Linked DNA regions of Homo sapiens: regions 2, 3 and 4 are each reported to be linked to region 1. Evidence: microRNA targets listed by miRTarBase, many of them from high-throughput screens and not tested one by one. Region 1 holds a microRNA gene; each other region holds the end of a gene's coding sequence.

The links. Region 1 holds the annotated microRNA hsa-miR-7843-5p (GAGGGCAGAGCCAGCUUCCUGA, at 3,796-3,817, opposite strand). A microRNA usually pairs through its seed, bases 2 to 8, with sites in the 3' UTR of a target mRNA and lowers its output. Matches are read on the target gene's strand: a 7mer-m8 pairs with bases 2 to 8, a 7mer-A1 pairs with bases 2 to 7 and ends in A, and an 8mer does both.
Region 2: miRTarBase lists IQSEC1 as a target of hsa-miR-7843-5p. Seed matches in the 3' UTR shown: 7mer-A1 at 1,856-1,862 and 7mer-m8 at 4,969-4,975.
Region 3: miRTarBase lists ARL6IP1 as a target of hsa-miR-7843-5p. Seed matches in the 3' UTR shown: 7mer-m8 at 6,659-6,665.
Region 4: the mRNA of SLC25A22 is a reported target of hsa-miR-7843-5p. Seed matches in the 3' UTR shown: 7mer-m8 at 5,816-5,822, 7mer-m8 at 5,543-5,549 and 7mer-m8 at 5,139-5,145.

The regions. Positions count from the first base shown.
Region 1 is chr14:72,513,011-72,520,647 of GRCh38, reverse strand. MIR7843 (microRNA 7843) reads right to left here and starts at 3,828; the gene lies at 3,750-3,828. RGS6 (regulator of G protein signaling 6) reads right to left here. Exons shown (of 18, transcript NM_001204424.2): 15 at 2,111-2,297. RefSeq lists enhancers at 830-919, 1,010-1,159, 1,630-1,699, 5,377-5,877, 6,412-6,481.
Region 2 is chr3:12,894,877-12,902,513 of GRCh38, reverse strand. It overlaps IQSEC1 (IQ motif and Sec7 domain ArfGEF 1), which reads left to right. Exons shown (of 14, transcript NM_001134382.3): 14 at 992-5,471. The coding sequence ends at 1,531. All of the region lies in intron 4 of LOC105376956 (a long non-coding RNA gene), which reads right to left. Among named protein-coding and RNA genes, the nearest start is that of LINC02022, 13 kb to the right of the region's middle.
Region 3 is chr16:18,786,473-18,794,081 of GRCh38, forward strand. ARL6IP1 (ARL6 interacting reticulophagy regulator 1) reads right to left here. Exons shown (of 6, transcript NM_015161.3): 6 at 5,197-6,898. The coding sequence ends at 6,780. It overlaps RPS15A (ribosomal protein S15a), which reads right to left and starts at 3,862. Exons shown (of 5, transcript NM_001019.5): 1 at 3,772-3,862; 2 at 2,509-2,646; 3 at 1,591-1,670. The coding sequence starts at 2,641. RefSeq lists enhancers at 2,815-3,532, 3,470-4,099.
Region 4 is chr11:785,832-793,468 of GRCh38, forward strand. It overlaps SLC25A22 (solute carrier family 25 member 22), which reads right to left. Exons shown (of 10, transcript NM_001191061.2): 6 at 7,039-7,157; 7 at 6,722-6,896; 8 at 6,473-6,627; 9 at 6,311-6,386; 10 at 4,644-6,237. The coding sequence ends at 6,084. It overlaps CEND1 (cell cycle exit and neuronal differentiation 1), which reads right to left and starts at 4,259. Exons shown (of 2, transcript NM_016564.4): 1 at 4,199-4,259; 2 at 1,284-2,827. The coding sequence starts at 2,745. The coding sequence ends at 2,296. RefSeq lists a silencer at 4,170-4,399.

The DNA.
Region 1 (7,637 bases):
TCCTGCTTTTCTTATGTGAATTGTACTGCTAGTTAATACCATAGTGGTGGAGGGAAGTTTCTCTTTATGAAAGTATTCCAGCTAATAAGTGAAGAAAGAATAAAATTAGTACGTTGTTGTTTTGTAACCTCTAATTAACTAATGGATATAAGCGATAGACATCAATATCTGCAAAAAGGTCAAAAAGAGAGGTGGCTAGACATGTGCCTTCTGATAGGAGAGCACCACACAATCCATGAAGTGGTTTTGTCCATAAAAATCAAACCTAAATCTGATTAAATATCTTATAAAACGAATTTATAGGAAAGAGAGATGATAGAAGAACATGCTAAATAGCACCACAGGGCTGCAATCAGAAAAATCCAGAGCTTGGAACTCTTTACAGGACAAAGGATCTAAATCCTTCATCAAATAAATTGCAAGGGGATGTGAGGAAGGGAGGGAGATAAAGGATATTGTGGCAATATTAAAACAAAAGGATCTTTTTTTTAGAGATACATATCTAAGTTTACAGATGAAATGATGCAACATCTTGGATTTGTTGTAAAGTAACCTGGTGGCAGGTGAAAAAGTAGATGGGGCTAGAGATAAAGCAAGATCAGACGTGTACTGATGATTTTTGAGGCTGGATGAGGGTCTATAAATGTTTGCTGTTTTGCTGTTTCCACTTTTCCAAGTGTTAAAAGTTTTCATAATAAAAAATTAAAATAAATCCCTCCTGATGTCATGCTTGGAGTGTTAATACTGTGCTAGATGCATCAAGGTTTTGACCAGTATCCCTCTTCTTGTGTTTCATAAATATTGGAGTTTGAGCTTCAGCTTGTTCATGCAGGGAACCCCCACGGAACTCCCCTGTCACTCTCCTCTCTGGCCATGTCAATATGGTGCTTGAAAGCATACGTACATACACATAAGCAAAAATATCTCAGCAAAGAGCTCTCATGACTCAAACATTCTGCTTTGAAGCTGCAAGGGGTATATGAAGGAGTCATGATTTCGTGATTGGCACAGGCATTTGATGGAGCTCGTGACCAGGGGGAGAGAAGTAGATAGTTATGGTGTTGAGGTTGGTAGGTGTTTCCATCTTGAAGTTCTGAGCAAATGACAAGGTAATTCTGGATGATAAGGGACACTGTTCTCATGCCATTATTTGCATTGGTGCAGCTACACTGAGTTTCCTAAATCAGATAATAATGTCTGCAAGGGGCAAACCACCCAAATTCTCTACTGGGGGCCCCAGAGGTGAGAGAAGTAAGTGGGGTCAAGGAGATAAGCAAAATCTTAAGCCCTGTCACTGGGTGTGGGATGGTGACAGGAAATAGAAATTAGGGGCCAGGAAGTAAGAAACCAACCCAATGCTTATTTTTAGAAATGGCACCTCCCAGCCGTCAAAATTTAGTCTGCTGGTTAGGGTGGTTCCTGTTTCTTTAGCCAGCATCACTAGCATCTGTGAGCATCTTAATTGTGTCCTACAGGGTTGGGAGTCCCTCCTGCAGGCTTGCTTTAACCTAGGGTTCACCCATTTGGGGCACTTTTCACACTGTTGAAGTTGCCCATTTACTTGTCTGTCTCCCACTCAACCTCGGTGAGAACAGGGGTTTTGCCTGTTCTTTGTGGTATCTTATCACATAGCGCAGAGCCTGGAATATAGATGTGCTTAAAAAATATTCACTGCAGAGCTGGAGATCACTGCGGAAGCAGTGTAGAGAGGTGGTTATCAGTGTGGGCTTCAGAGGTAGACAGATGTGGGTTTGACTCATGGCCCTGCTAACTCACTACACCCACTTCCCCAATGCTGTGTTCTGGTTTCCAGATTCTATCACTGACTTATTACAAGCCTTCAGATTTTGTAAAACACTTTGAGGCTTTCCTGGAACAAATAAAGCATATAACTGCACATTTTGGTTTCTATGTAATACATAACCCATCTAGGAAAACGATCCTGGGATTTTGCTGTGCGCCTATCTGAAATGGTTTCCACTGATGAACTTAAAAATAACCAAATCTGAAATTTTAACTACCCACAATGCCTTGAACTTGTGTTAATAGGTCAGGCAATGAAGGGGACAAATGAACACCTTATGACAACCACTTGAGTAGATAAGCAAACCTGGGCGTCTTCAAATGTATATCTCCCTCCATCTTTGACATTTTGACTGGTTATCTCATAGCTGTGAGAATCCAGGTTGATTGCACTTGGAGCCCCTGGAGCCAGAAACTCTTGCCAGATTTCTTCTACCCTCTTGGCCACATCCTGTAGGGGTTGTTTCTTAAGATCTTGGACAGCCAGCCAGAACCTGAAGTGGGAGCAGAAACACAGTCAGTTCCAGGGGGCTCAGCATCGGGATGTTGCCTGAGATGGCCCCAGAGCTGATGTCCCATGAAACCCATTCTGCTGCATCTCTCAGCCTGCCCTGATGCCACTACATGAGCTGCAAAGACCATGGAGATTGTGAAAACATCAAAGGTGTTCCTATGGTGCAGAACAGAAAAGAATTGCATATTAAAAGATCAATGTGCTTCTCGTTATCAGAACGGGATTTCTCTCCTTCTACATGAAGGTTTCTCAACCTCAGCACTATTGCCACTTCAGGCTGGATAATTCTTTGTTGTTGAGGCTATTCTGTGAAATGTAGGATGTTTAGCAGCAACCTTGGCCTCTACCCACTAGATGCCAATAGCAACCCCCCTTCCCAAGTTATGACAACTAAAAATGTTTCCAAACATTGCCCAATGTCCCCTGGGAGATGAACTCATTCCTGGTTGAGAACCCCAGTGCTACATACATGCCACCATGCAGACAGTGTGAGACCCTTTGTCAAATCTAGTTGGGATCAAGTGATGGCATCAAAATGGAGGAGAGATCCCAGAAGCAGGCAGTGTCCTGGAATCATAAAGACTATCTGTGTAAGAATGAACCAGCCATTCCTATTATAGATGGAGAAACTGAGCCAATTCACATCAGTGCTCAGCACGGTGCTTGGCAAATAGTAGGTGCTCAATATATGGGTTTCAGAGTGAAGACGGACGCATCTGGAGCAATGCTGAAGAGGCATATGTTGAAAACTTCTCTGCAGAATGGTTCTCCTTCTGCTGAGAGCAAGAGAGAAAAATCTGCTCACTTCCGTATTTGCCTCTGTTTAATCCCTCAGCATCCGCATGGGAGCAGTGAGCTCTTTTCTGCTGAGAGCAGCAGCAGCCAGAGCCAAAGCTTGGACAACAGCTACCGGGTCTTAAGGATGGTTCCCAAGGCAGCCTTGCAGCAGGATCCAGGTCTGGGTGTCATATCCTTTGCCCTGTGCATGGACAGGCCAGCTCCCCCATCAGTGAGTAAGAGAGTAGGTCCTGTGCTGGTTCCGAGAGCAGCGGGAATCACAGGTAGTCTAGTCAACAGAAAGGGAGGGACAAGCGAAGCTGAAACATGACGTGGTGGAAAGTGCAGACAGTGCATTCAATCTGTCATCAAATTTCATCCAAAGTAAGATGTACTTGTTTCTTTTTTTTTTTTTTTTAGGGTTAAACATGTTTTTCTGTTGCTGTTCAGAGAAATGTCTTTGGAGCCAAGTGCATGGCCCAAAGGTGCCACTCAGTGGCAGACTGGAGTAATGCAACCCAATTTCTGCAAGGCAAGACGACTGTGTGTGTGTGTGTGTGTCCCCAAATGCTGGGCTCCAACTCTTCCCCTGATTTGCCATTTTTTGCCATTTAGGATTCTGATGATCTCCTTAAAGGAACCTCTCAGCGACCCTGCAGAGCCAAGCGTAAGGCAGAGAAGGCTTCATGACTTCCATCAGATCAGGAAGCTGGCTCTGCCCTCATCCTGTCTACGCCATATCTTGCCTTGGTGTACCTTTCTGGGTGCCTCTCTCTTCATCTGTAAAATGGGCACTGAGTGGATGGAGGGATATGTGGCATGGCTCTGGAAAACTTCCTATGCAGACTTAACTCAGAAATGCTTTCAGGTCCTGTGAGGGGGAGCTGAGGAGGGGTCAGTGTGGTGGCCACAGGCTCAATGCTGGCCCAGTGTGATCCCTCGGATTCCAGCCTTCTCTCCGCAGGTGGCCTGGGCAGATGCTGCCGCCCAGCTCTTGCTGCTGCCATCTGGTGTCCCCTGCCCTTCCACAGCTCTCTGACAGCCACAAGTCCTGGGTGCTCAGGTCCTTCTGGCTTCTGGGTGAGAGGAAAGCAGTCGTGTTTCTTTATCCAGAGTCCAGAGAGGGTGGGGAAGGAAGGGCTTGAAAGGAGCTGTTCCCCTACCTCATTGTTCAGGTGGGCCCTTGACTCTTGAGCTGGGGCATGGGTCTCCTCCATCTCCCAGGCCTGCCCTAGGTTCTGTAGGGCTCTCTGTCCACTCTCTCAGGTCTGCTGTGAAAAGAAGGAAGTGGCCGGGAGGCTTGCCAAGTGAAAATGGCCATCTGCTGGTGAGAGTACCTACAAGGCTTTCTCTGCCTGGAAGGCCATGTCTGACCAGTAGGTGAAAGATGCGGGGAACCTGGCTCTATAGGAAGAAGCCAGTGTTGGCTTTTCCAAGGCCCAGAAGGGGTCAAATGTCCAGAGACGAAGTCAGTGAGGCTTCCTCAGCCCCATGCTAGGCAGACAGGAGAACCAGGTTCACAGAGGGAGGCCGTCTGGGCTGAATCCCTGGCTGGAAGCAACCTTCTGGGTCAGCGTCTTCCCACGCCCCCTGGGCCCCTGCAACTTCTCACACAAATGGATGACACCTGGGTGATTTCCTGCCCCCTCAATCAATGCCACATGGGAGGTCACTTTCTGTCACCTCTGTCAGCACTGAGGAGGAGCTGCTGAGCCCCTGTGGGAAGGCCCTGAGGACCCTGGGAGCTCTGCAGGCTCCCTGCGGTTCCTGAGGGCTCAGGGTCCTTTTTGCAGGATGATTTGGGTGCCACATGAAAATGTACATCACTCAGCTGGATATAGAGATGACCGGAGCTGATGGAAATACAAATTTCATAATCAATTTTTTTGAGACAGGGTCATGATCTGTCACCCAAACTGGAGTGCAGTGGCTACATCTCGGCTCACTGCAACCTCCGCCTCTCAGGTTCAAGCTATTCTCCTGCCTCAGCCTCCTGAGTAGCTGGAATTACAGGGGCATGTCACCATGCTCAGCTAATTTTTGCATTTTTAGCAGAGATGGGGTTTCACCATGTTGGCCAGGCTGGTCTTGAACTCCTGGCCTCAAGTGATCCGCCCGCCTTGGCCTCCCAAAGTGCTGGGATGACAGGCGTGAGCCATTGCACCAGGCCGCGGAATCAAATTTAATAAACTTTTATGTAAAAATAAAAAGGTTTTCTTTGTCACATAAAACCAAGAATTTTTTTAAGTACAAGTGAAAACAACAGGCATGCTGGAGGAAGAGGAAGGGGAGGGGAGAGAAAGGGAGGGAAGGAGGGGGAAAGGGCAAGAAGGGAGAGGGGGAAGGTATGGGGTAACATTCCCTAGACAGCAGTTTTCTCTCCCTGCACACACTGGGGACTCTCCCTGGCCTTCTGTCTGCCTTGGAGTTGACCTGCCTTGTCTCTCTCAGGCAACAGCAAAACTGCTGTCACAGCAGCATCCTGACATCCCGTATGTGTTTACCATCACTGGTTTTGAGGAACCTTTGTGTCAATTTGAAATTCAGAACAGGCTTTGGTTAGTGTTGGCCATCTTCGAGCCCCACAGGCCTGAGCTGGGAACTCAGAGCCCAGGCCACATTCCCCGCTGCAGAGAGCCACAGCAGCTCCTCTCTGCACATCTGCTGCCCATGGGAAGCCCCTTGAAGCTTTGGAAGCTTCTGCTCTTATAAAAAACCTGCAGGTACCGCTCCTCCCCAAGGGCAGCGGCAGGGAGTGAAATGCCAGCAGCTGCATCAAATCCATCCATCCTGCACTGAGCCTCCATGGCTTGCAGCAGAAGGGCCGTTGTGACTGGCAGGCCACAAGGACTAATATCTGGGAGACCACCTGTCCTGACCTGCCCCTGGTCTCTGCCAATTGTCATAGCTGCAGTAGGGAGGCAGCCCCTGTGCGGGCATTTGATCCGTGTTCATGACTTAGAAATGCTGGCGGGGAAACTAGCTTTTGGAGCGAGGCAGCCTGGGCTCAGATACCACTGGGGCGAAGCAGTGGAGAACAGGGCTGGAGGACCATCCAGGGGCTGCCCCAGTGGGAGCCTCCTTTCTCCCTAGAGGCTTTCAAGGAAGAGGATTTTCTCAAGGCTGGCTGGGTAAGACAAACCATTTGGCCCTTGATCATTCTCCATCCTACCAGGAGGTCTGGGCAGGCCCTCAGTCACCAGTTTACATATCTTTTCATAAACTAGAATTTTCATGGGTTAGAAAATACAGCTTTTGGTTCGCTCCCAGAGAAAAAGCAAACTCCAGGAGAGAAGAAAGTGTTTCTATGCCCTCTGCTGGTCAACCAGAGACGTAGGCAGCAGAGCTTAAACTTGGTTTAGTTCCCGGTGGGGCTAAAATTCCGGGGTGCCTACGTTAGTAACCACCCCCAGCACCACTGAAGCTGAGTTCTGTTCACTGGGCAGTGACTGAAACACTGCAGATGGTTGTGGTGTCGTGGGAGTCACCTCTGTTCCTATTAATCATGGGTTTGGTAAGTGGTGGATCCTGCTGGGCCTAGTGAACCTTCTGAGGTCTTCCTTGGACTCAGGGCAACTGCCAGAGACAAGAGCTCTCGAGATGAACCTGGTGCCCCACTGTGTTCTCTTTTAATTGCTTCTCCCTTCAGCCGACACTGTGTGGAACTCGGATCATCAATCTGCAGGTTAGAAGAACAACTACCTTCTCTCAGGAGATGTTACAGCTCACAAAAAATGTACGGGGGACACTCTTTGCTGTGGGTTTTGATTTTTAACTCATTCTCTGCTGTGCAGCAGAGGGTGTCAAGCCAGGGAGGACAAAGATTTGTGTAGGGGAGATGTGGGAGAGGGAGCAAAGATGGGAAGGAGTGACTGTCATTATTCTGGGAAAATGCACAAAGCAGGAAGAAGGATGAGGCCAAGAAACTGAGCGGAGCTCCCTGCATCAGAGCTGTGAGGCCCCTGCCTTGTGGACAGAAGCCATGAGCATTCCCAAGGCACTCAACAAACAGCTGTCTGTGGGTCCACTCGGTGCAAAGGGAGCCTGCACCCAGCTCAGGTGGGTCAGAAAAGGAGAAAAAGAGGTAGACCCTGCCACAGAGAGCTCACAGCTTCAGCAAAATGCGCTGCTGGTCATACCCCACCCAGTCCACAGAGATGATGCCCCCACCCTCATCTCACAGACCCACCCAGAAGACACTGATCAAAGGGGATGTCAACTTCTATTACATCATCATAGAAATTGTTCCTTAAAGGATCCAGGGTGACACTTTGGGGCTCCTCCATTCCGCATTCTGAAGCTCTGATAGAAATTCAGCCACTTGGCTACTTAACTGGCACCCCGTGGGTTGTGCAAGAATGTTATGATCTAAGCAGCCCTTTCACTGGAGAGATGAGAGGGAGCACAGGAGGACAGAGGAAGTGGAGAAGCACTTTGTAATTTACCCAGGTGAGTTCTGGTCAGGCTTTTTCCTGCCATGCTCCAATGCCAGTGGCCTGGGCCCCTCACCAATCCTGCGGAGAAGGGACGACTCCAGCACGGC
Region 2 (7,637 bases), not on the chromosome of region 1:
TCAACAGTGGGGGTGGTTCTGGATTTTGTGTTTTGGTTTCTGCTTAACCCCATCACCTGTGGTCCCTGAGCATGGTTGACCATCCCCAGCTTCCGGCACCCCCGCCCGGGCCACCCGGCTCCCACTCACCCTCCACACTTGCTGTTGGATGTTTTTGCTGAACCCTTGACTTCCACGCCCGCCCATCCTCATCGCTTTCTTCTTGGAGTTTGATTGCTGTGTGTCTGCGGCAGGACACCATGGAATTGCTTAGCTTGTGGGAGGAGGAGTGTCTTGAGAGAAAGAGATTCAGTGTGGATTTCATGATATTTCACTCATCCTCCGGCCATCTCTGTATTACTGTTCACATCTCTACCTCAGCTTGCAGATCTTTTTCTGTTACCTTCTTTTTCCTTGTTTGGTTTGTAGTAGGCAGCTGTAGTGAAATGCCTAGGCAGCCCATTCTCCCAGAGGACAAGGTTTCTGAGCCCCACCTGTCCCTGTCACCACCTCCCCCGAGACCTCAGGACCCACATGGGCGGAGCACATGCCCTCAGCCCAGTTGAGCAGTCCCAGGAGAGCTGAGGGCCCTGTTTTCAGCAGGAGCAGGGCTCCTCCTCCAGGCACATCAGCCCCTCTGCACTCGCCACACACAGCGCACAGACACCCCAACCTAGGGGTTCCAATTTGAAATCTCAGGCTGCTGCCAGGGCCAAAGTGCTTGTCAGAATGAGACCAGAAGTCCTACTTCTGCCGTGGTGGTCAGAGAGATGGGCCCCTCCCCTGCCCTCACTCCCCACTTTGGTCAAGGCCAGTAACCCCCAGCTGCCCTGCACTGTAGTGAGAGGAGGCGGGGCCCAGTCCAGCCTCACTGAGCCCCACCCTCTGGCCAGTGAGTTGAACTAAAGCTTAGCAGTCAGTGGGTGAATTTTTACATTTGAAAAAAAAAAATCATTCTGACCTAAGTGCTTGAAGATCTTTTAATTTTGATTTCTATGAATTTCCTTTTTAGGGGTCCATCATTAGCAGTCCTCACATGCGCCGGAGAGCTACATCAACACGAGAGTGTCCATCTCGCCCACACCAGACTATGCCCAACTCATCTTCCCTCCTGGGCTCCTTATTCGGGAGCAAGAGAGGGAAGCCCCCTCCCCAGGCCCACCTGCCCTCAGCCCCAGCCCTGCCACCCCCCCACCCACCGGTGGTCCTGCCTCACTTGCAGCACTCTGTGGCTGGCCACCACCTGGGGCCCCCAGAGGGGCTGCCGCAGGCCGCCATGCACGGGCATCACACCCAGTACTGCCACATGCAGAACCCTCCCCCGTACCACCATCACCACCACCACCACCCACCCCAGCACATCCAGCACGCACACCAGTACCACCACGGCCCCCATGGGGGCCACCCAGCCTACGGGGCCCATGCCCACGGCCACCCGCCGCTGCCCTCGGCCCACGTGGGGCACACAGTGCACCACCATGGGCAGCCCCCTGCCCCGCCGCCCCCCACCAGCAGCAAGGCCAAACCCAGCGGCATCAGCACAATTGTGTAGACAGCCTGGGTAGGGGTCCCAGGCTCCCTGAAACACCTGCACACCACACAGGGCACGCCCGGGGGTCGCCAGCCGCACACCAAACCCGGGGCACTTCTGTTGCCATCTCTCCCCTCTGCCCCTCACGGCCCAACCGGAGCCCCAGGAGCCCACAGGGCTGGTGTTGTGTGGAACAAAGGCCCAGATTTCATTTCTTGTTGGCACCCTGGGCTCTGCTCACCTCAGTCTGAGGGATGGGTGGGCCTCAGACACCATCAGCCTTGAAACGGTGAGCCAGCCAAGTAGTGTTGAACTGCCTCCCCCACTCCAGCTCTCAGCTCCCTGTGCCCTAATGTACATGCATATGAAAACCCAACCTAGAAAACGAAGAAATGAGATACAAAAACAGACAAAACAAACCCCAAAACTTGCTGCATTATTGCTCTTTTATTGACAATGGGCAAAAAAATAAGTAGACCTGATATGGTTGATGAAAATACGTAAGTAAACTTTATATAAATATATAAATATATAAATATATATATATATATACTGTATAGGTAGTACTTGTGTGTGAAAGGCAGGCGTTTCAGTCCACATTAGCAATACCCACCTTACAAGGAGCTCCACTTACCTAATAGGAAGACAGTACCTTAGCTGGGTGTGTGAGACAATAGACCAAACCCTAAATGCTAGGAACAAATTCAGATACTTCATATTTTCATACAAAGAAGTCCCTCTAGGACTGGCTAAAATCTTTACACAATCATTACTAACTGTGCCAAGTAACATAGCATCTAACTGTTTAAAAAGTCCAGTATTGCTTTGTATAAATCCTTATTTTATTAACAGAATACTATCATAAATAGTATTATAATGCTGTTATTTCAGGTAAGCAAATAGCTAAACTGCAGTACACTCTACAGTAGCAACTCAGGACAGCTGGTTACAAGCTGGTTGTCTTAGGACATTGGTTACACGGATTCTTAGACACTTTAATGGCTGCGATAACTGTGACTCTCCATGATCCATGTTTCTTTTATGCGCATATGATTTGACGCACACTCATTCAGAGTCCTCCGAGAGGGGCACCCATACACGGCAGAAGTGTTCATCTCCAACATGAAAGTGACCAGCTCTCATCCTCGTCTCCCCAACACCATAACGTCCTCATCCCGCCTCCAACCCACACCAGGCCGAAGCCCTCAGAGAGTGTTTTCATCAGGAACCACTCTCGAACCTGAAGGTTGACTTTAGCGTTTAGCAACCCAGGGCGGTGTGTGTGTTTCCCGTTTTGTTTTCTGAGTGGTAGCAGTGATCACCGTAATTCCATGTAGCCATGTGCTAGCAGAACCCCTGTGTCCTCACCGTGGCCCGTGTGACCCCAGCCGACGAGTGCCCGGCGGAGCCCCCGCTGCCTTCCCATGGTCCAGTGAGCTGCCAGGGCATCACATGACTCTCAGCTGTGCTCTTGTCGCTTCTGTGTTGTGGTGACACCATGCGCTCCCCAGGGCCAGACCTGCACGCGGCAGGTCTGTGCCCGAGTCACCCACGGGCCATACTTTGTAGTTTCAGCCTTTCGAGCCACTGCAGCCGTCAGTGCTGTGCTCCTAAGCCATGGGACCCGAGGACTGCCCCCCGGCGCCTGCCCAGGCGGAGGCCCTTTCAGAAAGGGCGAAGCTCACGCCTGACTCTGCGGGCCGCGGGGCCGCGTTCCCAGTGGACAGCGTGGTGAGCCGTGGCCGGACGGCAGGAGGAGAGGGGAGCCCCCTCTGGCTGTGTGTCACCTTGGCTGGCTGGCTGGCCAGGGTTTTGCCGATTTCCCTCCTCACATCCCTCCCACCCTCGGTCATATCATTGAGATCACCGTACCAGCAAATCTGCAAACCAAGCACTTTGTTAATCTCCAGAGAGAGCAAATACAGCAATCTAGAGTTTAGCCTTTTTAAAAATGTGACTTTAACCCGCCCACCTGTGTCCTCCCATTGGCGTGGCATTTCTTTGGTGTCTGCTCAGAAAGAAACAGCATGGGACCGTGTGATTGGGTCCAGGCTGGGCTGTCAGGGAAGCGCCCTGGTGTCTCCGACTCATCAATTCTCGGGTCTTTTTTAAAAGCCAGGCTCCCCAAAGCACTCTGTCTCGCAATTTTGAGGAGGCTGTTCCGACCTGGAAGCGTTAAACTGCTGCATGTCATCTGGCGTCAGCTGTGAGGCTGCGCTCTGCGTGTTGTGCGTTTGCAAAATGTATTGGCGTGACTGTAAACACATCGTTGAAGTAAAGCGATTACATATTGAGTATGTCAGCTTTTCTCACCCTCTTCTGTGCTGGGAGGAGAGTCTAACTGTAACCTTTAGGTTGTTCCAGAAAAGATTCAGGCCGTTTGGCACAGAATTGCTCTTTCTGAAGGGTAGCAGTAATGAATAGGAACAGACAGAAAACCCCAGGAGGGGCTTTCAGGAAACTCTCCCTCTCCATCGCCATCCTGCAAGCTCCACAGCCTCGGGCTGCCAGCCTGTGGCACTGTCCTCGGTGTGTCCTGGAGCTGTGCTGGGCAGCAGGGCCTCGCGTAAGGAACTGCTGGAACCCACTGAGCCCTTCCCGGGGTTTCCCGCCGCACTCAGTGTGTTCCTTCAGGCTAGTGAGGTTTCATTCTGTTTTATTTGCAAGCTTATCAAAAGTTTGTGGAAGATACATTGTTGGGTTCCAGAGGCTGGAGTCATGCTGCCCACATCTTGTTTGGGAAAGCAAAAGCTCCCAGTGAGCTGGTGTCCCCGTGTGTCTTTCATGGGACTGTCCCCTTTAGAGATCCCACCTGTCAGAGCCACAGCTTCGGGGTCCTGTCATCACATCCCCTGGGAGGGGAGGCAGGAGGAGGCCGAGGGCCCCAGGATGTCTGCCTGGTCCCTTCTCACTGTGAGGACGCCCTTGGCACACCTTTCTCAAGTCACACAAATTACTGCAGTTACATACAGAATTGCTGACAGGAGCAGGAGACGCTGAGGGAAACAGCTGGCAATGTGACAAAAGTCTTTTCTGGGACAACAATCAAATCATGTATTTGTATTTTTTTAAGTTTACCAATGAATTGTACAACAATGTAAAAATAAAGTTCATCCTAATATGCTGTGCACATCTTGCTTAAAAATGTCTTCAGCACCCAGTGCAGTGATCTTTCCCTCACACACTGCATGCAGCAGGAGCCTCTTGTTTTTCTTAATGAGCTGAAAAGACAGCAGATGTTCACAGCTGATGCTGGGTGTTGACTCAGCGCCACGGGAAGCTCTGTGCCCGCAGGTAAGCACGCACAGTCTTACAGTTCTCCTTGTAAAATATCATCACCCTTCCTGCCTGAGAAACGAGTACATTTGTATTTTATGTAACAACAATAGTCAAGGCAGCATTGCAACACTGAGCAGGGTGAGGTGGGGGTGCTGAGCACAGGACAAGAGGGAGGAGGCCTGCCCTCCATTCAGATGCATCTGCATCGCCCTTCTGTGTGCAGTCACATCGAGACTGCACACAGCATGCATCTCCTCTTGGAAAATATCTTTTGCCTCCGAGTTGTTTTAAGCAATTAGAATCAGGTCCTGAATCCCCAGACTGTTCAGAGACTTCAAGGGACACCTCCCTCACAAGAAGCCTGGCACCCCCACTGTGTACCTTTGAGAGGAAAGGAGTGCGTTTGTTTTCATCTGCATTCTGTTTGTCAGTGGCAACAGACTCTATCAATGTAAAACCATGGTTGTGATCATGTGGGGAAATCAAATAAATCCTTTGAAACTCTCGGATTCTCACTTTTTCTGAAAAGTCCAGAAGTTGCCCTGTTGGCCAGACCCAGATCTCCAGCTGATGAGTTTCCCCATTACTTGTTGTGACTCTGGGCACTCACTTTCCTTGAAGACATTGGACTGACTGAGGACACTGATACAAAATTTAAAATAAAGGGACACATCACAACCAATAGAAGGTTTCAAAGGTATTTATAATTTCTAGCAACTTTCAACAAGTGATGGTCCTTTCATGGAGTTAGAGGGGATGAATTCTATTAAGCGTTGAGGTACACTGATTATGACTTAGGGAAAAAAATACCCAGTGGCCCAGTCCCCAGTAAAGATGGATGATGACAGGAGTTCAGAGCAGCCTGCGTTTCCATGTTGGCTCATATCATGTACAAAAGCCAAGATGGTAAAGTCATTCTCCTGGAAGGAAGGGGCCTGTGAGGATGTAATTGGCTTCTGCGATTTCTCCTTTCCTGGCCAAACATAATTCCTGAGAACACCACTTTAAACTTTCAGTGCATGGGATAAAAGGAACTGGCAGATCTAACTAGTGGAAAACCAAACAAAAAAAAGTTAATTTTGGTGACCAAAATGAACTCTGGCCCTCCCTCCGTACAGCACATTCTGATTGAAAGATGTTCTCACAGGGGCCCCCTCTTCCAGTCTCATTCATAGCCACTACTGGCTCATCTAGACTGAAACCAGGAAACCAGCCATTTCAGTGCACACACACAAGTGCCTTGCACAATGCCTGTTTCTGCAACTGGGCGTCCATCCCTTTTACAGACTATTCAGGGGCCCTTCAAGAGAAGCTGGGTACAAAAATTCCCTGAAATACCCGGTTCTGCCTCAGGGTTTGATTTTTACTACGCAGATCTACAGCCCAGGAGCTGCTGGAGGTAGGTGAGCTAGGCCAGGGCTCCGAGGCGGTGATCTTCTGGGGATTGTGTTTGTCTCCCCCTGCCCTGAGATTGTGAGCTGCATGATCCGCCTGTGTGTGTCCAGTGACAGCCCCAGGACTGGGCTTGTCGGCATGCATCTATCTGAAAATTAATGGATGGCTGGAAGAGGCAGGGGTTCAGGTCACACCACCAGCAGCAGCTGGTGTTTGAGAATACCGATCACTGACATAATTAAAAAACGTATGGAAACCGGTTTGCTCATCCCCCCCACTTCCCTTAACACTTAAGTCTGGCTGGGAGACACCTGACTCAGACCTTGAGATCATGGTTCTTCCTCCTCCCTGGCTGCATGTGACTTCTGTGCCACCGAATCCCAGGAACATGTTTAGCTTCCCTGACCCCTCGGCAGCTGTGACTGTTCGTGCCTGCCTCCTTGAAATGCTGGTTCCCGGGCACCTCTGGGCCATGTGCCCTTTCTGCTCTCTGGAGACTCCTTCAGTCTCCTGTGCAGGCCAGTCCTCCTCCACGGAGCTCGTGTGTGGCTTAGGTCAAGTCCAAGCCCTCTTCCTCCCTTTCCCCTCTCCTGAGGCACCCTCACACAAGCCCACGGTTTCAGTCCACCTTCTCCATGCCCCTGGCTTCCACATGTCATCTCCAGCCCAGACCTCTACTCTGGGCACCCATGTCCCCTTGGTGTTTCTGACAGCCCAGCCCTGCAAGCCCTCCATGACCATGTTCTTCACCGTATAGCCCCATGCAGCGGAAACCCGGTCCTCTCCTCTGTTCCCTGTCCTGGTGAATGACATCACCATTGACCTATTTAAACCAGGACCTGGGGTTGCTCGTGACTTTCTCCCTGGTGTCCTGTCCGTCTTTCCCCGAACTCTTGATTTGTGCCTCCTGCTTCTTCTGGAATCCATCTGAGTCTCTTCACGTCTCACCCCACTGCAGGCCCTCATGTCTCTCTCCTCGACTAGAGCTCCCTGCCTTGGCACTGGCCTTCCTGGGGGGACCCCTGTCTATTCCCCACACGGGTCTTGCTCTGTTGGCAAAGCTGGAGTGTGGTGGGGCAATCACGGCTCACTGCAGCCCTGACCACCTGTGATCCTCCCCCCTCAGCCTCCTGAGTAGCTGTGACTACAGAGGCGTACCACCATACCTGACTATAGTGTTTTTTGTTGTAGAGACGGGGTCTATGTTGCCCAGGCTGATCTCGAACTCCTGGGCTCAAGCGATCCTCCCACCTTGGCCTCCCAGAGTGCTGACTTTACAGCCGTGAGCCACTACACCCAGCTGCCTAGACATGGAGTCATTTTTTTAAGGTGCTCCTGCTTAAAGCCCTATCGGTGATTTCCTGTTGCCCTTAGGAGGAAAGAAATCCCATCCTTCACATGGCCCCTGCCTGCCCCTCAACAGTCACATTCCCCTCACATTCCAGCCGTACCA
Region 3 (7,609 bases), not on the chromosome of region 1:
TGCTCTGTTCAAATTTATTTCTCGGCTGGGCCCAGTGACTCACACCTGTAATCCCAGCACTCTGGGAGGCTGAGGTGGGAGGATCACTTGAGCCCATGAGTCCAAGACAAACCTAAGCAACATAGCGAGACCCCACCTCTACAAAAAAGTTAAAGAAAAATCAGCAGTCACAGTGGAATGCACCTGTATTCCCCAGCTACTCAGGAGGCTGAGGTGGGAGGATGGCTTGAGCTAGGGAAGCTGCAGTGAGCCAAGATGGCGCCACTGCACTCCAGCCTCAACCAGAGCAAGACTATCTCAAAAGAAATATAAATAAAAATAAATCAATCCTATTTTGAGGTGGGGTTCTAATGGCTACAACTAGAACAAAACATGACATACTGAAAATTACCCTTGCAAGTTCTTCAAATCTTAGGGAGTCTTGCCCTGTTACCCAGGCTGGAGTGCAGTGGTGCGATCTCAGCTCACTGTAACCTCCGCCTGCCAGGTTCAAGCAATTCTCCTGCCTCAGTCTCCGGAGTACCTGGGATTACAAGCGCCCGCCACTGCGCCTGGCTAGTTTTTCTATTTTTAGTAGAGACAGGGTTTCACCATGTTGGCCAGGCTTGTCTCAAACTCCTGACCTCGTGATCCGCCTGCCTCAGCCTCCCAAAGTGCTGGGATTACAGGCGTGACCCACTGTGCCCAGCTAGTTCTTCAAATCTTTAACAAATACTTCAGCAACTCACCTTCTGGGTCTCTTTCCCCCCTATCTGTTGCAATAAACACAGGGGTGTCCAAGGGAGAGAATACAGTCATGGGTTCTTAGTTTCTGTTTCTAGTTGGGCCAGTAAGGCCCCTTCCTCATCCCTCTTTTCCATTTATCACTAGAGACAGAAACTAAGTACCATGGTTTCAGGCTGCTACAAGTCTAAAACAATACAACAAAATAAGGCAGGTTGGACAAGCCTGAACTAGAGGATCTGCCTCCTTGCAAATCTGAAAGCTACAAACCTGACAGGAAGCACAGTGGACACCTCAACCAGCTTAAGACACCTGCCCCCAAAACACACGCAATCACTTAAACCACAAAGTCAGTTTTACTTGGTTAAGGTGTTGACAAGTCAAACTGAAAAGCAGCATAGACCCCAAAGACCTATGCCAGCAAAAACAGAAAAAGTATTCATATTGCTATTTAGAAAGCCCCATTTACTCAAAGATAAAGATTCCATTCAAAAAACCCAACACATCACTGAGAGGAAGGACACAGCACCTTGGACAAAAGGCTCAATGGCCTTGAGCCACCCAAGTTCAAGCCAGTGAGGTGGGTAGCGTTAACATCCAAATACCAGTACCAGCGTTGGTTTCACCCCCCATCTCTCCTGAGACAGCTTATACCCCATAAAAACACTAGGTCAACTGACATAATCCTAGCACAATCAACCCAGGAGAGCAAATGAAGTTCCATGTGTCAATTTTTAAACCTTTTTAAAGTAACTGGATAAATCAAGTATGGCACCACTACTCAGTATTTCCAAAGGCAATTACAACATTTAACGCCACAGTAAAAAATTCTTAAAGCTTTGAAATGTGTAGATCACTCGTTCTTACCTTGTTTAGCCTGCCTGTGAGGTTCACAACAATTTTCCCAGCTCTGTGGTCATCAATGATTTCAAATTCGCCAATGTAACCTACAAAAGATAACTGACTGGATTAAATAAAAGACATCAACTTGAGAGCTAAACCTCTGTGCTCTAGCCTACTCAATTCTTCACTCTCCCATCACCTCAGTGACTGCTTCTCCAAAAAGTTGGGGGGAAGACAGTTGCTCTGTATCAGAACTAATTTTTACAACCTAACATATAAGAATTGGGAGACAATACCCAAAACAATCCACCTTGCAATTCTGAAAGAAACTATTTTCCCCTTGACCCTTCCTTCACTGCTTCCCATTCCCAAAGACTACTTTGTGCCAAAGAAGTGCAATAATCCAATCTTTCCTCTCAAAGAGCTCTGAGAAGATCTCAAGAGTCCTTTCTTTCTTTTTTTTTTTTTTGAGATGGAGTCTTGCACTGTCGCCCAGGCTGGAGTGCAGTGGCCGATCTCGGCTCACTGCAACCTCCACCTGCTGGGTTCAAACAATTCTCCCTGCCTCAGCCTCCAAAGAGCTGGGACTACAGGCGCCTGCCACCACGACCGGCTGATTTTTGTTTTTGTTTTTTGTTTTTTTAGTAGAGACGGGGTTTTGCCATGTTGGCCAGGCTGGTCTCGAAATGAGCTCAGGAGTCCTTTCAATGACTTAGATTCATTTAGCTCCCAAACACCTAGCAGAGCTCCTTTTTCCAGCAGTCCTACTCTAAGTGACTCTTCAGCAGTTTCAGACTATCCCCTCCTCCACAGCCCACAGGTCAATTGCATTCGTTCTCAGGTATGACAGACATACTTTGGTCCCCCATAATTAATTTCTACAGGACTGATTTCTTAGAGAGTCTCACATGAAAACATAAAACACAGCGGCAGCAGACTTACCATGCTTCATCATCACAGTGAGAAACCGGACGATGACTTTGGAGCACGGCCTAATAAGCACCTGGCGTTTGCCTCTCTTTTCGGCATTGTTGATACTCTTGAGAGCATCTGCCAGGACATTCATGCGCACCATTGTGGCTGTTCAAGGAAGACAAAACAGGAGGTTTTACTGGCATTGCCAACATCAACAGACACCAACCATTACACTGCGGAAGTATCCTTTCCTTTCTGGCCCCACCTTGGCGAAGTTTTCTCAAGTCTAAGCAGGCTGCTTCTCCATTTCCCACCACCCAGGAAAATTCCTATTTACTACGGTTGTTGAAAACAGGTTATCGGGACGTCAGCCTGCACATTTTGAAACTCATTCATTCACTAACCACTCTTCTTCGAATCGTGCCACACACCAACGTCTGGAGATAATAAAATGTGGGACAAAATCCACTTGACACAAGACAACGTGAGAACTGGCAGAAACTGCCAGCTACCGGAAGGAAAACATCGGGTATAGTCGATCAGTGATTCAGAACAGAAGCAGAGTATCATCGGCAACATTTTCCAAATTGCTGAAAATCAGCAGATTCCATACTATTAACATTGTACTTTAAATCAGTTCACTCTCACCTACAATGAACACATCTAACTATTAAACATCCATCTTCGTGCCATTTAAAATTGCGTCCAACAGCAAGAGCCACAGTGGCAAACAGAAACATTTTACATGCTTGTCAGACTGGACTCTCTTCTAATGGGCAAGAACCGCACACTACACTGAAGTTTTGAAAGACCAAAGTGCCAATAGTAAAGAGTAGAACTTAAATTCCTTAAGTTCAAAAGTGTCTAAAGAAAAACTCTGCGGCCCAGAAGATCCAAGTTGGCACCCAGCAAACTGCCAACCCCGGCACGATGCAGCTTTTACCTGCTGGGTGGCCTCAGCCTCCCAAGCTCCCAGCGCGGCCGCAGCAGTGAGAAGCTGCACGGCCCACCAGCCCCGATGTTGCCCGCCGCCCGGGGCCAAGGCGCTGCCTCAGCACTAAAGGGAGATCCAGACGCTGCGGCCCGAACCGGAGCTACCGCCTAGCTGGGCAGTCGAAGGCTCCGGCTCCCGCCCGCGCTGCGGCCTGCACCCCACGGACCGGGATCCCCTGAGTGCACAGTCTGGGGCGCCCAGCCATGGCTCTCCTCTATGCCTGTCCAGGAACCGGCAAGGCCAGGATCCTCGGCCAAGGTGGGGACCAGCCTCCTCGCAGGACACCGAGACCGAACCTTAGATTGCAGGATGGCGCCGATGGCAGACGGATGAAATTGGAGCTCTCAGAGAGTGCTACTCACCGGCGCGGAAAGATGGCGGAAAGAGGACGGGAGGGGAGAGCGCACGGAGTTATGGGAAGCGGGAGAGCTATCGCGAGACTTTCAAAGGCCCGGCAAAAACAAGGACCGCCTAGGAGAAGGACGAGGGTGAGGGAAAGGCGGAGCCTCCTCAGGGGTTGGCAGTTGAGAGTCGATGGAATCGACCTCCCCCGGTGGGGCCTGGGAGAGGCAAGGTGAGCCGTTCGTTGGAGGTTCGTCTACATTTTTTTTTTTTTTTTGAGACAGTTTCGCTCTTGTAGCCCAGACTGGAGTGCAGTGGCGTGATCTCGGCTCACTGCAACCTGCGCCTCCCGGGTTCAAGTGATTCTCCTGCCTCAGCCTCCTGAGTAGCTGGAACTACAGAGATGCGCCACCACGCCCGGCTAATTTTTGTATTTTTAGTAGAGACGAGGTTTCCCCAAGTTGGCGAAGATGTTCTTGATCTCCTGACCTTGCGATCCGCCCGCCTCGGCCTCCGAAAGTGCTGGGATTACAGGCGGGAGCCACCGCGCGGGCCTTAATTTTTATTTTAGTTTACTTTTGATAAGGAGTCTCGCTCTGTCGCCCAGGCTGGAGTCCAGTGGCGCGATCTTGGCGCACTGCAGCCTCCGCCTCCCGGGTTCAAGCGGTTCTCCTGCCCCAGCCTCCAGAGTACCTGGGATTACAGGCGCCCGCCATCACACCCGGCTAATTTTTGTATTTTTAGTAGAGACGGGGTTTCACCATGTTGGCCAGGCTCGTCTCAAACCCCTGACATCAAGTGATCTGCCCACCTCGGCCTCCCAAAGTGTTGGGATTACAGGCGTGAGCCACCACACCCGGCTAAAAATTTTTTTTTAATTAAAAAGTTAAGTTCAGACAAAAGTCACCCAACAGTTGTTTACTGAGCACCCATGTACCAGACGCTAGCAAGGCCCTGGGGTACGAGGTGCCCACACAGGCACCATTTAGCCAGTTCTGTCCCTGCCGGTTCTTCCAGCTTCGTCCTCTCTCACACGTCAATGCCCCTGCTCATTCGTTGCATTTCCTCTTCCCTCTAGCATGGTACCTGGATATTTGCTAAATAAAACTTAAACCTTTTATTTTTGTTCTTTTTTAAAATTTTTCCTAGACAGGGTCCTGCTCTGTTGCCCAGGCTAGAGTGCAGGGGTACACTCAGCTCAATGCAACCTCAAACTCATGGACTCCAGTGAACCTCCTGCCCAGGTCTCCCAAAGTGGTGGGATTACAGGTAGGGTACCTTATAGACATCTAAGGACCACACAGGGTACTTCATTAATCAGATTCATAAATCCAATCATAAATATTATATTGGCTAAGTTATAAAGAAAGTGAGACATGAAGATTCCAGCTTTTTTTATTTTTTCCCCTTTTACACAAAACAAAGTAGAAGAAATAATACAGGATTAAAACTGCAAAAGTAGTTAATCAGTAGAATATGTATGCACACAAAAAATCCAGATAGGAAGACAGGCTTATTTACAATGAAAGTAAGGTAAAATTAACGTAGTTTTCTTATGAAATAATAAAAAAAAATCAAACATATGCTACAATGGGCACCACTGTTCACAGCAATATTAAAGAGGAGAAAACAACACTTATTTAATAGGGACAGATATACCACAAGGTACAACATCAGTGCAATAAATTCACAAAACTATATTACAGCTAGTTAATCAGTTTAAGAATTGTTCCCGTCAGTCACATTTTTTGGCCCTCAGAAGTTCATTCCTAAAGATTTCAACTACTCTAAATTTCTAGCTACCAAGAAGTTAAGAATGATTATAAGAAGCTTTCCAAGGAGTTATGAAATCTTTGTAGACCAGAGGCCAACTATCATCACCTCAAGTCTGCTCTCACCAACAGCCCTTGTATTTTTCAGGGAGAAATCTCTAGGAAAAAAGTCAGACACCAGTGTAGTCACTATCTCCCATGTCAAACCTAGGGGACTAAAATGGTCAGTATTACCATAAAATGATAATTTTGAGGTTTACCTTAAAAGGCTTATTCTGGTCTCAAAAATTAGATAAGATTATCTTCTACTGAAATGAATATTGACTAAACATAGAAGACTGCTGTCCTTTTGCCAGTCTTAGAGTGAAAGTCATAGACATGAGTCTTAACCTACTGTATACTATAGCTAATGTCAGCTGAAAATCTGAAATTAAAAGCATGCTAGAAATCCTAAATGCAATCTTTTGGAAGTCTGCTATTAAAAAGCCTTTAAGGATTTACTAACTTCGAGTCTAAGTGCAAGGGGACGAAAGCTTAAGCCTGTCAGACATTCCTTTTCTTGGACAAAAAGATCAAAGTTTCCTACAAATTGCTAAGCTTTGCACAAGGGAGAAGCCTACATGTACTAGTGCATGGAATCAGTTTCATCTTATTTCATGGGGACTCTTCTCCCACTGGAAAGAAACAGAATGAGGAATGAATCTTAATTGGTCTCTTCATCAGAAGTGGTAAACTTGGTCTCTATATTCACGAAGTCAGACAGTTTTTTAAGCAGACTGTGGAAGCAGACAGAACCAGCTTCCTGTAGCCACAGACCACTACATGGTATCTAAGCTAAAGCAAAGATGAACAATTATCCAGATTCACTTGAACTGTACTAAAGGGCAAGGTTCACCACTACAAAAAGGAAGTTGTCTAAAAGCAAGAATTCAATTAACGCTGGGTAAGAAAAGTCAAAACACTAATGAGTTGTCCATGAAGCCAACTGCTAAGAACGCGCTCAACTATACGCGACATGAAGACACTATGCACGAAGCCTTACTTGGCGAGTCTGAATTTCTATTAACTAAGGGCAGAGTGAGGGAGAACAAAGAGCTACTTCCGTAACATTTTAGTATCCAGATAGTACAGCAGAAACGGTTCCCGGGGCAATGGGTGCTGCATTAATCACACTGATTAAAGCAGATGAATCATTCGTTTTTCTTTTCTTTTTGTTTGAGAAGTTTGTTTATCTCCCTCTTGGCCATTCCAATGTACTTCAAAATGATTCCATGTTGGTTTAGTCCAGGAAGCAATAGTAAGGAAGTCACTTAAAATAAAAAAAAACCCAACATTAAGGAGGCAGCAATTAACCTGCTAAAGGTTATTACTTTTTTTTTTTTTTTTTGAGACAAAGTTTCACTTTTGTTGCCCAGGCTGGAGTGCAATGGCGCAATCTTGGCTCACCGCAACCTCCGCCTCCCAGGTTCAAGCGATTCTCCTGCCTCAGCTACCCAAGTAGCTGGGATTACAGGCATGCGCCACTACGCCTGACTAATTTTGTATTTTTAGTAGAGATGGGGTTTCTCCATGTTAGTCAGGCTGGTCTCGAACTCCCAATCTCAGGTGATCCGCCTGCTTCAGCCTCCCAGAGTGCTGGGATTACGGGCGTGAGCCACCACACCCAGCGACAAGTCTCACTCTTTTTGCCCAGGCTGGAGTGCAATGGCACAATCTCGGTTCACTGCAACCTCCACCTCCCAGGTTCAAGCGATTCTCCTGCCTCACCCTACCAAGTAGAGTAGCTGGGATTACAGGTGCCTGCCGCCACGCCTGGCTAATTTTTGTATTTTTAGTACACATGTGATTTCGCAATGTTGGCCAGGCGGTCTCCAACTCCTGACCTCAGGTGATCAGAGGTTATTACGTGTGTATGGCGGTGGTGGGTGGGGGGGGTGGTGAGTGCAGTGGTGTGATCTCAGCTCACTGTAACCTCCACCTCCTGGGTTCAGGTGATTCTCATGCCTCAGCCTCCTAGGTA
Region 4 (7,637 bases), not on the chromosome of region 1:
GGTGTGAGCCACCGTGCCCAGCCTACAAGGATTTTCATTCCTGCTTTGTCTGAAGTTGAAAAAGTTTTGGAAAATCTAAGCATCGTTTAATAGAGAATCGCTAAGTAAAATGAGGCAGCATCGTGGGTGGAATATCAGCACCAAAGCGCCAAGCCTTGTGGTTAAAGGTGGCAGACCATCTTCAGTCTTCTTAGCCCCTTTCAAGTCCCCTACTATATCAGAAAGGGTTGGCTGGTTGCTTTTAAAGCACGAGCCGCAGAATGGAGAGAATGGGCGACTGGAAGGCAGGCTGAGGATGGTGAGGGGCCCTGCTGGCCAGTCAGAGAGGTATCCTGGCACCTGTGGGGCAGGTGAGCTGGGAGCTGGAGGTGTGAGCAGTGTCTGCACAGAGCCTTCTCTGTACGCTGGGCTCAGATCAACGGGCTCAAGGGATAGGCTGCCTCCTTGACTTCTAGGAGGCAGCAGCATGAGTGGGAGTCGAGGGAGGCTGTCGCAGGGCGGCCTGGGTGGGAGCAACAGTGTCGGTTTTAGCTGGTTCTACCCCGTGGGACCTCCGTATCTGTCTGGGCCTGGGTGTGGGTGCATGAACGAGGACTGCTGCTCTGGGGAGGGAGTGTGCCAGGTGCCAGAAGGGCAGGAGGAAGACATGGCTGTCCCCCCACACCAGCTGGAAGAAGGCTTGGGGGAGGAGGTGGTCAGGGAGCTCTTGTCTGCTGGCCTCAGCCACCTGTCGGGTGAGACCCAGAGCCAGGAAGACAGAGCTCAAAGGAGCCCTTCCCAGGCACCGCAGGCCTTGCTGCTTGTTGGCCCGCATGCTGCAGCCCCACCCGTGGCCAGGCCCACCAGCAGGCCCGCCGGTTGGACACCTGGTCAGAGTGGGCTGGGGTCCATGGATGAGAGGTGTTGAGGGGAGCCTCTTCTGCACTCAGGATGTGGGGCTCGCTGCAGTGGGGGCTGCGGAAGGGCCCCTGCCTGGCTGGAGAGCTCAGCCTGAGAAGCAGGGCTTGCCCTCCCCGCACCCCATGTCCTCACTGCTTCCTGGTCCTGTAGCCCCTGGGTGTCCATCTTGGGTCAGGACCCACAGGAAGGCCAGGGAGGAGGATGGAGCAGGGCCTGGGTGGCGATCCGGGCCGAGGCCCCTGGAATAAGGGCATAGGAGTGACAGGGGGTCCCGTCAGAGGGTCCTGGATGCAGCATCCCTCCCTGGAAAGCCTGGGGTGTGGGCGTGACACATGCGACCCTGCGTCTCCCAGCCACATGCAGATGAGGATGCAAGAGCAGCCTTCAGACGACAGAGTTTATTTCAGACTCAGCCTCCACTCAGGCCCGGGGTTCCTGTGGCCACTGGCCAGTGAGGGCAGGCCACGTTCTCACAGTGCCCACCACCACCTTCTGGGAGTTCGCCTGCTGCTGCGCGCCAAGGGCCACGCTGGGACTGGATGTGCTAAGGAGGGGCTGCACGAGGGGCTTCCCCAGGTGCAGTGGGCTGAGGACAGTGTGTGACGGTCGCCGCCAAAAGCAGTTCTACTCTACCTGTTATTGCATTATACGCTGGTTAGACTCAGGTGGTGCTGGGTGCAAGCTGGAGGGGCAGTCTAGCGGGGCAGGGCGGGCACAGCTGTGAGGGGCCCTCGACATCCCTGCCTCCCCGCCGGCGTCGGGGCTCCCCTGGAGCACAAGCTGGGGAAGGCGACCCTTGGGCAGCACCCCCTCCACACGCAGGCTTCAGGGCTCCGTCTTCCCACCCAGCTAGGCTTGGGTGGTGTGGGGAGGTGGCATTGAGGCTCTGCTGAGGTGAGTGCCCACCCCAGGTCCGTCCCACTGCATTCGCCCAGGCAGACCCCCGGGGGGTACGCAAAGAGCAGAAATGGGGCGAGTGGAGCCACCGCGCCCTTTAATGTCCCCACGAGGGCCGGGCCCAGGCCCAACCCATCCCGGCACCCCCACCTGCACTCAGACCAGCCCTGGGGGCCCAGGATCACCCAGCCGCCAGGGGTGGGGGGGGCCACACACAGGGTCCATTCCTTTCTTGCCGTTCCCCAGCTGTGCCCTCGCCCCACATCCTGTGCTGTGGACCCCGGAGCCTGGGCTCTTTCTGCCCTGGAGGTTGGGGAAGTCCTGGGTCAGCAGGGGTGGGCTCGGGCGTCCTCTTCACCGTGCGCGTGTGTTGGGGGCGTATGTAGGTGTGTAATGAATGTGCGTGTGTACGAATAGGTAAGGGTGAACTCTGCATGCACTGGCTTCCTCGGGTCTGTACAGGAAGTGGCTCCGTGCCCCCCGCCTGGCCCCCAGGTATTATTTTTTCCGGACCAGGAAGGCCACACCGAGAATCAGGGCTATGGCTGCCACGGCCACACCCCCAGCCACCAGCAGGGGGTTGAAGTTCTCACAGGACCAGGGACCTCGGCCCCCAGGCCCCCCACTGGCAGCCTCATCTTCCTCCGCCCCGTCCCCAGGACCCTTGGGCTCCGGGGTTGCATCGGGACTGCTGGGGACCGTGGGGGCTGGCTTCAGGTTGCTGTGGTTGTTGAGAAGGGCAGGGTCGGCCTTGGCCGAGGTCTTCTTGGCAGGTGCCGTGGTGGGGGCTGCTGGCGGCTGCTGCTTCTCGGCCGGGGCCTCCTTCTTCGAGGGCTTGGTCAAGGGGGCTTTCCCATCGGCTGCCGGGGGTACCTTGGCCTCGGTGGTGACCTGGGGCACCTTGGTGTCGGGCTTGGGGCTGCTGGCTGACTTCCCTCTGGACTCCATGGTGGGCGGGGCGTATGGGACAGGCAGGTGGCTGCACCAGAGGGGCTCAGGACAGTTTGTCGCCCCTGGGCATTCTATGGGCCTGGAGGGAGACACAAGGGAGGCTGCGCGCGGGTCCAGTCCCCCCTGTGCTGCCCCGACCACCTGGTCCCCAGGCAGCCCCTGCCCAGTTCTCTGGACTCTCTGGAGCCCCAGCTCAGGGGCCTCCCGTGGGCCTCTGACACTTCTCTTTCACGGCCTGGACTCCATCTGTCCATGACCACTCCTCAAGGGGCCCCTCCAGCCGCAGAGGCAAGGGCCACGCACAGGTGGGAGGAGGTAGGGGACCCCACTGTGCTCCATAAAATGGCCCATGCAAATGCCACATCCTCCCACCAGCCGGGGGCAGGAGGCTCTTGGTGGGGAAGTAAGGATCAGGCCCAGAGAACTCGAAGGAAGAGCATTCTCCCCTCCAAGGAGGTGATCGGAGCCCCAGTGGGAGAGCTGACTGCATCCCCTCCTCAGGAGAGCATTCCTGCTTTGCAGAGATGGACACTAAAGCACGGAGGCTGTGACCTGGCCAGGGTCCCAGGGGGAGGAGGGCGGGGAGGGGCAGGAGCTGGGATCTCAGGCAGCCATCAGGGTGGGTGGGCCCACAAGAACCCAGACTTGAGAAAACTGGGGTGTCTCTCCAGGAAGTCAGCGTGGGGCTGTGCTTCCAAGGGCCGTCTGCCCCTCCCCAGCCTCTGGGGCCCCCTCCTCAGCATGGGCCGTGCCTGCCTCCAGCCCTGGAGCAGGGAGTCCTCGCCCAGCCCAAGGCTGTGCTGTCTCTGTGGGCAGAGGGTTCCTGGCGTTAAACAGGGTGGGCACATGCTGCACTTGGCCCGCGGGTCAGGGCGGAGGACAGGGTTCTGGGCTGTGGGAAAGGCGGTGCCCAGATTCTCAATGACCGAGGCAGAGGTGGGAAGGGCCCTGGGGGCCCAGCCGCCCTGAACCTGAGTGGGTCTTGCCCCAAAGCCCCAGAGGCCGCCTGTCTGCCTCTCCCAGGGAAGGATGAGAAATGCCCTCCAGACCTGCAGAGAAAGGGAGGCACGTTCCCCACCCCCCGCCAGGTGCATTGACCACACTGAAGGTCACCCGAAGGTCACAGCATGATGAGGGCGTCTCCAGAAGAGGCCCAGCTGCTGCCACCTCCCAGGGAAGCCCAGCCGTCCCTTCACCCCTGCAGTTCTCGGGGGGCTCAGCTGCTGGGCATCAAGTTTGCAAAGAGCAGGTGGTCTGCCCCCCCAACCTCGCTATTTGTGGCACTTACATCCCGGCCGCCGCCTCCCTCTCCCGGGATCAACTGAGCCCTGGAGAACTGGGGGGCCCGCGCGCAAACCCAGTGACCTTCAAGGCCCGGAGCCGCCTCCTCGCCCCGCAGGACGCCGCGCCCGCCCCGCCCGCCCCGCCCGCCGGGAGCCCCCCGCCTTACGCGTCCTCCGGCCTCCCCGGGGCTGCGCGCTCCTCCGCGGGATGACGGCGGCTGCGAACGCGGAGGAGAGCTCGGGAGTTTCCCACAATGCACTGCTCCCGGCGCAGGAGGGCGGGGAGGGGGAGGGGCGACCGGGCCCCGCCCCGCCGGGAACCGTGGGATCCGCAAACCCAGCTCCGCCTTAGATCCAGGGGTAGAAACTTAGGGTCCGAGAGAGCAACTGCGGGGTCCAAGTCCCATCTGGGACTGCCAGAGGCAGGAGGCGGGTCCCGCTCAGCATCCCCTCTAGGCCAGGGTGCCCCTTGGTCGGTGGGTGACGGGTCGGTGGGTGAGGGGTCGGTGGGTGGGTGCGCAGGCCTAGCCCTGCAGTCTGAAGGGAGCCAGTTATGGGAAGAGGGGACTGCCCTCCCCCGCCCCCAAACAGACCCCCAGACAGACAGCAGCATCTACTTAGAATATTTATTTATTCTCTGACATGACAAGACACAAAAAGTTACAACTTCTTAAAACTCTTCAAAAGAAAAAAATATAATTCTGTAAGCAGCAGCAGCAGCTTCCAAGGTTCTGATGTGACGGGAGGGGCAGCTCCCAGGAGCAACCGTGAACTGGGGGGGTCCAGGCCTGAGCCCCAGGTAGTGTCGCTGGGAAGGGGCCTCTGTGGAGGGCCCCGGTTTTGGGGACACAGCACCAGCACATCAGGGTCTGTCACCAACACGATCACATGGCCAGGGCGGGGCAGGGAGAGCTTCGGCTCACAGCAGGGATCGCCCGGTGGCAGGGGGGATGGGGCTTCTGAAGTGTGGTCAGGGGCCTTATGCCCGGAGGCGGGAAGGATGGGGCTTCTGCAGTGTACCCAGGGGCCTTATGCAGAGGCTGAAAAAGGAGGGTGGGCCCTGAGAGGACTTGGGGGTGTGGCAGCTCCTGGCCCTCCCTCCAGAGCAGGGCAGGCACCCTCAGGCTCCACACTGGTCCCAATGCCCGCCCTGCTCCCTGGCCAATCCCAGGCCAGGGTGGAGGACTCAGGAGAGACCAAGCTGGGTAAGTTAGTTCCTGGACGGGGTCAACAGAGCCTGGGGCACACACAGCACACAGAGCGCCTGGCCACGGCGGGAAGGGGGGCAGTCCCCAGCAGCCCCATCCCCAAGGGCCAGGCCAGATCCCCACAACACACACACGCATGCACACACACATACACACACACATGCACACAGACCTCACAATCTGGGCCCCAGCCTGGGGTGGGAGCTGAGGAGCCCACCAGAAAGTCCCACAGTGGGTGGCGGGCTTGCCCCAAGAGTCAGACCTCAGGGCAACCCCTCACTTGGGATTCCTGGCTCAACAGAGAGGGCAGGAGACCCCAGTCCTCTTGCAAGGCTGGCCAGGGAGGCAGAGTCAAGTCCTGCCAAGGCGACAAGAGCGGCTGGGGAAGGACGGAAGGGCTGGAGAGCCGCTTGGGTCCAGCAGATTCAATAAATAGGTTTGTGTGGGGTGCCTGTGTGGGCCAGGATGGCTGTGGAGACTGGAGCTGGTGGACTGGGGGTATGGTCCAGCCTGCCCGGCCCAGGCCCGGGGGCCCCCAGCCCAGAGACCAGCTCTGTCCCTGGGGGTGTTCAGGCCAGGGCAGGATTGGGGCAGGGGCTAGCTTGAGGAATGTAAAGATTTCTGCATTTTCTACATAAATGAGACATTGATCCCAACGGTGCAGGCAGCACCCCGGGGGGCTTGCGTGTGCACCACCTATGTGGACCCTGCACCCTGCCCCCTGCTGCCCCTGCCGACGGGAGGGCTGGGGAGGGGTCTTCCCTTGCTCCGTCCTGGGCTAGCTGCCTGGCTCCAGCCCCACACCGGCCCTGCCCAGCTGGCTGGGGTGGAGCGGGTGCTGGGCTCAGGCCTGGGGGTCCTGCAGCAGCCCCAGCAGGGACTCCGCGATGCCCAGGAAGTAGACCACCTGTGCGATGCCGAAAAGGGGCGCGATGACCAGCGCGCGGCAGTAGGCGCCCTTCAGGAAGGCCGAGGGGCCCTCGTGCCGCAGGATCTTCCTGTGGAGGAAGGACGAAAGGGTCAGCCCGGTACGCAGGCCCCCAGGCCCCACCCGCCGTGGGACCTCCCCACCTGGCACAGTCCAGGATCCCAGAGTAGGTGTCCTCGTTGACGCCTCGCTGAAGTGACTGGAGCCGCGTCTTCACCACTGCAAGGGGCGCTCGGGTCAGTGTGAGCCTGGCCAAGGGCTCAGTCCCGCCCCATCCCCAGCCGGGCGCCATCCCATGCACTGACCATCACAGGGGTTGACGGCCACAGCGGCGGCACTCCCAGCCACACAGCCGGCCAGGAAGGACACGTAGAAAGGCGACTTCTCCTCGGACGCCGGGCGGCCCAGCTGGTTCAGGTTGGCAAAGAGCGGGAAGTACACCACAGAGAAGGGGACATCCCTGTGGGGAGGGAGGTGGCCGTGGGGACAGGAGGTGGTGGGGTGGGCAGGCCGGCCTCCCCCTTCCCTCCCCCCACCTGCCCTGTGCCTCCTACCTGAGCAGCGTGGCCCCGAGTCCCTTGTAGAGACCGGCAATGCCACGGCTCCGCAGCAGGTCGCGGGTCAGCTGGGTGGCCGTGGGCCGAGGGGCAGCTGGAGCCTCCACTGAGGGCTGGGCACCCCCCTGGGCCGAGAGCTGGCCCTGGGCAGCCAGGATCTTCCTCTGGGCGGCTGGGGACAAAGAGGCTGCTGTCTCCTCTTCTGTGCGAACTGGGCAGGGGACACGCTCTGGCCCTCCCTGCGTCCCCACCCTCCCCTCGCCCTCACCTCTTCCCGCACCTCTGCCCTCTCCTCCCCCTCCCCCCGCCCTCACCAATGCGCCCTGCATCCTGCAGCTGGATCTTCAGCATCTCCATGGGCGTGGTCACGATCACCTGGCAGGTGCCAGCCCCACAGCCCGCCAGCATCTCTTTAAGCAGGGTCAGCTTCTGCCTGTGGTAGGGGCGGGGCCGCAGTAAGTGGGAAGAGACAGGTCTACCTGCCACCCTCGGGGCTGCCCACCATGCCTGGGCGCAGAGGATGGTGGGAGCCGTGGAGGCAGATGCAGGCCTGTGGGGGTACAGCCCCCAGCCTCCGCCACTGCAGCAGCAGGCAGGGAGGAGACCGATGGACAGACGGCCCCACAGGCAGGGGCCTGGGGAGGGCAGTGGGGCTGTCTGCGACAAAGGAAAATGGGAAATTGGGGGTCAAGTGCCCCAAAAAGGGGCTGCCCTTGCAGTCCCCCTCCAGTGATGGGGGAGCTGGTCAGTGCCCTCAGGCCAAGGGCTACCAAGCCAGAGCCCCACTGATTTGACATCTGCTTTGCTCCCCTGGTCAGGGGAAAGGAGGGAGGGTGCCCCACGAGGTCAAAGAAGCCCCAAGCAAGGGGCTGAAGACAGGCAGAGCCCCCAGGTGGGACCCAGCTGGCAGGGT